Homo sapiens: one gene and its partner. The protein of the gene in region 1 purifies or fractionates together with the protein of each later gene. This does not show direct contact. Each region holds a gene or a part of one and is shown on either strand. Other genes may lie near its edges.

Region 1 (3,157 bases):
GTTCTCTGAAAAACACTGGTAAGTAAACAAAAAGACAAGCTGGGCTAGGCATGGCGGCTCATGCCTACAATCTCAGCATTTTGGGAGGCCAAGGCAGAAGGATCACTTCAGGCCAGGAGTTCGAGACCAGCCTGGCCAACGTAGCAAGATCCCATCTCTAAAAAAAAAAAAAAAAAAAAAAAAAAATTTTTTTTTTAAAGACAAGCTACAGACTGGGAGAAAATGCTGCAAAACACATATCTGACAACATATTTGTATCCATAATATGTAGATTCTTAAACCCAATGGTAATATAACAATCCAATTTTAAGATGAACAAAAGATTTGAAGACTCTTCACCAAAGACATACAGATGACAGAAATGCACATGAAAAGATGTTCACCATCAGCCATTAGGGAAATTCAAATTAAAGCCATGATTAGATATCAGTACACACCTATCAGAATGGCTAAAATAAGAAACAGACAATACCAAGTGCTGATAAATATGCAGACCAATTGGAATTACCTTTCTGCTGAATAACAACTTTTTCTTAAACACACTATGTAAAGATGCTTTAAGTGATATTTTGATATTGTGCTTTTAGACAGACACACTCGCCAATTGACTCAGTACAAGTGTCTAGTCAGAGAATATAGGGAAAAAAATTTGAATTGCACAACATATGTGAACAAAACATAAAATGCTTTTCTTGGCATGGGTAGAAACTTCCAGACTTCCGTCTATTGTGTTCACTATTTCCTCATTTTTAAAAGTGTTCTTGGATTTAGGCTTTATTTTGTCCTTAAGCAGAACTTCTGAAAAAGTTCAAATAGTAAACATATTCAGCTTTGCATGGAGGGGCCTCTGCTGCACAACTTAACACTGCCCTCGGAGCAGAGCAACTGGAGACAACAATGGAAATGGGCATTTCCATTGCTTGTGTTTCGATAAAACTTTAAAGAACCGACTGTGGCTGGATTTGGCCCACAGGCCATAGTTTGACAACCCGGGGCTACAGTAGCAGATATATGCATTCAGAAGGCAGCAGTAGGCAGCTCACAGGCAGGACCACAGCCAGCTTTCATTGGTTCTAAGCATTTAATTAGCAGCTGCCTGGTTTTGCTGGGGAAATATCTCGCTGCTTGCAAGCACTGGTCCCAAGGTGGTCTCAAGGGATACCCCTTTTCTACTCAGACCTCATGCTTCACCAGCACATAGATGCTCTCAAGTCCATTTGCACCTGAGCAGCACGGGTGGAGCCTGGGGAATGGAGAGGGTAGGGGACTAAGTGGCAGGGCCGTGTCAAGACCCAGGTCTTTCCCAATGAACAAACTCCCCTTTACAAACAGGGAGCACCCCAAAAAATAGGAAGGAGCTCCACCTGCCCCATCGTGACAGTAACTGACGTGTTCCTCAAGGGTTATCCAGGCAGTGGAACCACTCACTGCAGCAGCATCTCCGAGGGTGGGGGCCTGCACCTGGTGATCCTGAGGCACACCGCAGGTGATGGAACAGTACCTTCGTCCTGCAGGCCACTGGTGGCCCAAGACACACAGCTACAGGGCTGGGACTGAGGCGCCCAGTCTTCATGGTATCAACAGCAGGCTTGAAGGAATATACTTTATTAATCTACCTCCCAAACGCTAAAATGCCAAAGACTAAAATGCTAACATTCAGCTAAATTAAAACAACTATTTACAGAGCACTGTCTGCAGGCCATGTGGGGCTGGGCCCATTTCTTCCCCACCCACCCACCCAGCCCATCCTCCAAACAGGCCTGGGGCCACCTGCCACCTGCAGCAGAAACACCCAGCACAGAGGACGTTTATATACACCTGGCCAAGCCCTCCACAATGGCATGCCAAGAAGGAGGGCAACAGACCAAGACAGAGACCGACAGACAGACAGATAGACATGGACAGGAGGCGAGGCTGCCAAGAAGGCCGCAGGCCAGCCTCAGTGCTTCTTCAGGCTGTAGGCCAGGCTGCTGGGGACCCTGGCGCCCTGCAGGGGCGGTGAGTTCCAGACAGCAGAGCTGGTGCGCTTGTGATAGCGGGGCTTGCTCTTCTTGAAGATATCCTCCAAGTCCAGTGGGAGAATGGTTCCAAAGAGCTCCAGAAGGTTCGGTGGGTGGTAGTACTGGTGAATGATAGCCTGGCTGAGCGGGGTGCCTGCAGGAGACCACAGACCAGACACTGCCTTGGGGCTCTCCATGAACCTCCCCATCCCTTGCCCACCACAGAGCCCTGTCACCCTCTCCAACCTCCCTACAGAGAGCTCTGTCACCCTCTTCAGCCCTGCCCCTGCCTGTACCACCATCAAACCCAGAGAACGCCCTTGTGTCACATCCTTCCAACCTTCCTCTGGCAGCTTAACCTTACAAAGTCCTTGAGAGCTCGCATGAGCCAGGCACTCCTTGAACCTGTCCCGACCACCACCTGGGAGGCAGGTTCTGTATTCTCCCATTCAGCAGATTTGCCCAAAGGCATACAGCTAATAATGGCAGAGCCTGTGTTTGAAGACAAGCCCAGTTCCAGAGCTTAAGCATAGGATGCCATCCTTGACCACCTTGGCCAGCTGCTTCTCACAGACCCCACAGGCCCTGGTGCAGTGCTGAGGGGGCCTCTGGGCAGTGGATGTGGGAAGGCACAGTCCTGACAACGGGGCTGAGGAAGACCCAGGGGATCAGGAGGCCAGACATGCACCAGCACTTGCTCAGCACCAGGTGCGGCTCTAAGGGCCAGCCGTGAGCTCACTCATGTCACTCTCAACAGAACTCCTCAGCTGGGTCTTGTCTTCACCCCCCTTTCACGGATGAGGAAACTATTTAAGTAAGCTGTTCAAAGTCACCTCCGATTAGATGGCTTTGCAAGCGAGCTGGCTCCTGCTCACTGCCATCTCCCAAATGACTTGACACTAGTAGTTAAGAGGCTTAAAGCACATGCCAGTTACTGTAGGGTTCAGATGAGGTGAAACTCACAAAAACAAGTTTCTGTAGTGTGCCTACCAGCTATGGGATTCCAGGCCCTTCCCTCTGGGGCGTCTGCACCCCTCCCTGACTTCCGGCTCAGCAACCACTGCAAGGCACCCATGGTACCCACGGGCCCCATCCACTCTGGCAGCACCCACTTCTAGCACCTACCCTGCTCACTCAAGCTGGCCTTGCACTCAGGC
Region 2 (3,827 bases), on another chromosome or scaffold:
GAATTGGAAATATTCATGAAAAACACAGAAGAATTTTATTAAAACAAAAATATATGCAACATAGTGTATTTCAGGATAGATGTATAAAAAGTGCATGGTAAAGAGGCAGACATATAAAAGAAAGAGAAATAAGTAAAAGAGAAAAAAATAAACAGATAACTAAAAGATAGGGGAAAAAAGGCTATATATTTTGCTTCTGGCTTCCTTTTTTTTTTTTTTTGAGACATTAGGCAGGGAGGCCTTCAAGTGATCCTCCCAACTCAGTTGGCTAATTTAAAAAAATTGTTTTTAGAAACAAGGTCTTGCTATGTTGCCCAAGCTGGCCTTGAACTCTTCGTCTCAAGTGATCCTCCTGCCTCAGCCTCCCAAGTAGCTGGGATTATAGGCAAGAGCCATCACACCTGGCTCTATATATCTTATTTTCTTACTTACATTGTATGAAGATACCTGCTCAGCCAGTCTCTTATCTCTTCCTGATAATATATGTTCTTCATCTTTCTTACTGGATGACTTCCTTGCTTCTTGTGTTTCCTGAGGAATGAACACAGATAACACATTACTGAATCATAAGATTAAGATAAAACAAAAAATAAATATTATTTTTACTTAGATTAAGTAACAAGAGACACAACTAAGCCAGGTTTGTGAAATCCCTTCTGATCAGAAATATTAACATACTTTGCCGGGCATAGTGACTCACGCCTGTAATCCTAGCACTTTGGGAGGCCAAGGCGGGTGAATCACCTGAGGTGACGAGTTCGAGACCAGCCTGGGCAACATGGTGAAACCTCATCTCTACTAAAAATATAAAAGCTGGGCATGGTGGCGGGTGCCTGTAATCCCAGCTACTGGGGAGGCTAAGGCAGGAGAATCGCTTGAATCTGGGAGGCAGAGGTTGCAGTGAGCCGAAATCGTTCCACTGCACCCCAGCCTGGGAGACAGAGTGAGACTCGGTCTCAAAAAAAAAAAAAAAAAAAAAAATCAAAATATTAACATACTTGATAAGAGATCAGTTACTGCTCTAGTCTGTGATTTTCTTGAAAACAAGGAAAAAAAAACCCACTCCACTCAATCAACCTATTTATTGAACTCAGGATGAGTTTGACTTAACAGTGGTGAGATGTAGAAGTGAAAATAAGGCTTAAAAAGATATCCTACATTACTGTTTTCAAAAATAATAAAATCACCCTGGAGGGGGAAAAAAAAACAAAGAAAAGGAAATAAAAGGTGTACATTTTGAGAAAAAAAAAAAAAAAGAAAAATTGTGTTTATTCACAGATCCTAGCACTGTGTAGCAAACTGTGAACTGCGTAGCAAACTCCAAAGAATTTACTAAAAAAACTCCTGGAACTACTAAGCAAGTATAGCAAAGTTGCAGGATACAAGATCAATATACAAAATATAGCAGCAAGAGGCCGGGCGTGGTAGCTCACGCCTGCAATCCTAGCACTTTGGGAGGCAGAGGCAGGCAGATTGCCTGAGCTCAGGAGTTCGAGACCACCCTGGGCAACATGGTGAAACCCTGTCTCTACTAAAATACAAAAAATTAGCTGGGCGTGGTGGCGAGTGTCTGTGGTCCCAGCTATTCAGGAGGCTGAGGCACAAGAATTGCTTGAACCTGGAAGGCAAAGGTTGCATTGAACTGAGATGGTGCCACTGCACTCCAGCCTGGGCAACAGAGCAAGCTTCTGTCTCAAAAAATATATATATACATATATATAAATATATACATAGAAATATATATACATATAAATATATATAAATATATATACATATATTTATATGTATATATTTATATGTATATATTTATATTTATATATTTCTATGTATATATTTATATGTGTATATATATTTATATGTATATATATTTATATGTATATATATTTATATGTATATATATTTATATGTATATATATTTATATGTATATATTTATACATTTATATGTATATATTTATATGTATATATATTTATATATATCAGCAAGAAACAACTGGAATTTGAAACAAAACTATCATTTATATTAGCACACACACATGAAGTGCCTAGTCTAACACATTTTAATTCAAAAAAATGTTACAGGAATATTCTAGAGCATATGCTCCCAAATTGGAATGGGGAAGGCCCATATAAAAACTACTGAAAACCACTGGTCTCTAAGCATATTCTTATATTGTTTTTATTTGCTTAGGAGGCCTCATGGACTAAAACAACACTGTATTTAATAAAGTAAGTTAAAAACATAGAAATAGCTCATTTCTACATTTTCCCAGAAAATAGATGTTTTACTTATAAAAAAAGAAAAGTGATGTTATGGTACAATGGAGATAAAAACCTAACCATTTAATATTAAGAGGTAGTAGATATCGTCAAGACTGGAAAGTGAGGACTTAACTGATCTCATTCAATTAATGTATGTAAAACATTTTCATTACTTTCTAAAGAGCAATCTTTTTTTTTTTTTTTTAGACAGAGTCTCGCTCTGTTACCCAGGCTGGAGTGCAGTGGCACAATCTCGGCTCACTGCAAGCTCTGCCTCCTGGGTTCACGCCATTCTCCTGTCTCAGCCTCCCGAGTAGCTGCGACTACAGGCGCCCGCCACCACGCCTGGCTAATTTTTTGTATTTTTAGTAGAGACAGGGTTTCACCATGTTAGCCAGGATGGTCTTGATCTCCTGACCTTGTGATCCGCCCACCTCAGCCTCCCAAAGTGTTAGGATTACAGGCGTGAGCCACCACGCCCAGACAACAGCAATCTTCTTTTAGGCCATATTGGCTAAATTAATGTGAGAACAGTAGAGGTATGAGAGGTATGCTGGAAAATCAAATATAAGAAGTAGGATGGAATGGAGGGAACCTATCAAGAAGGAAATATGGCTAAGATCTGTTATAAAAATTAGTCATGAACTTTACACGGGATCAAAGACAACAGAAAATGAATAGCTCTGTGATACTATATAGTTTGTGACATAAATATATGTCTGTGGTACTATATTCTGTAATGTAGTATTATATAAAATTTAAGACTTATTAATCCCTTTATGAGTCCACTGCAAATACTAAACAAAACATTTCAGCACAGAAAAGAATGACCAGGTCTAAAGAACTCAGTCATAGGGATTAAAATCTCTTAAGTTCAAACAATATAGCCTGGTTTCCATATGTTCCATTATTCCATGATATTTTCCTCCAAGGAAGACTCCCTACATATCTGGCTGTAAGCTAGACATCTATTCATCTCCAATGAGAAACAGGATATAAAAAAGAACAAATAAATATGGACACAAATAAAAAGGCATGTAAGCAAGGGAATTAATTGTCTTTTTGGAGACAATCTTAAAGGCCAAATTATAAAAACTCCAATAAATAATTATTATTTCAAAACCAGCTAAGAAATAATAGGCATTCCAACACCACCCTTTCAAGGTTTTTGTGGCTCTCTTGGATCCACATCCTTTGCTGCCTCTCCTGCCCCTATATGTGTTGGTTCACCTCACCTTCCTATTATAACTCTCAGATTCTCTTTAATCTTAGGACAAAAAAGAAATTATGTATAATGTTGCCCAATATGCAGGCAGAGTGCTCAAGTGTGGAGACTGAAACATGCCCTCCACACTTTAAGGGTACCACTGTTTATTTCACAGGCAATTATCCACTAAAATGGAAAGTCCTTAAGGAGCTCTTGACTCTTTCTATCACCTGAAACCAAATACAATTCCTGACAAAACAGGAAAATTGATCATTACAGATTGAAAACAGAAATCCTGACAATTCTAGGTACTGATGAGTAATACAAACAGAGCTAGTGGAATGAACTAAGTGTGGAACT

Evidence for each region.
Region 2: the proteins of INCENP (region 1) and GPALPP1 purify together in Homo sapiens (co-immunoprecipitation; one large-scale study listed by IntAct). This does not show direct contact.

The regions. Positions count from the first base shown.
Region 1 is NC_000011.10:62,150,759-62,153,915, reverse strand, and holds the end of INCENP (inner centromere protein), read right to left. Parts: intron 2,155-3,157; coding exon 1,940-2,154; 3' UTR 747-1,939; downstream 1-746. UniProt on the Homo sapiens protein: Component of the chromosomal passenger complex (CPC), a complex that acts as a key regulator of mitosis.
Region 2 is NC_000013.11:45,017,034-45,020,860, reverse strand, and holds part of GPALPP1 (GPALPP motifs-containing protein 1), read right to left. Parts: intron 532-3,827; coding exon 433-531; intron 1-432.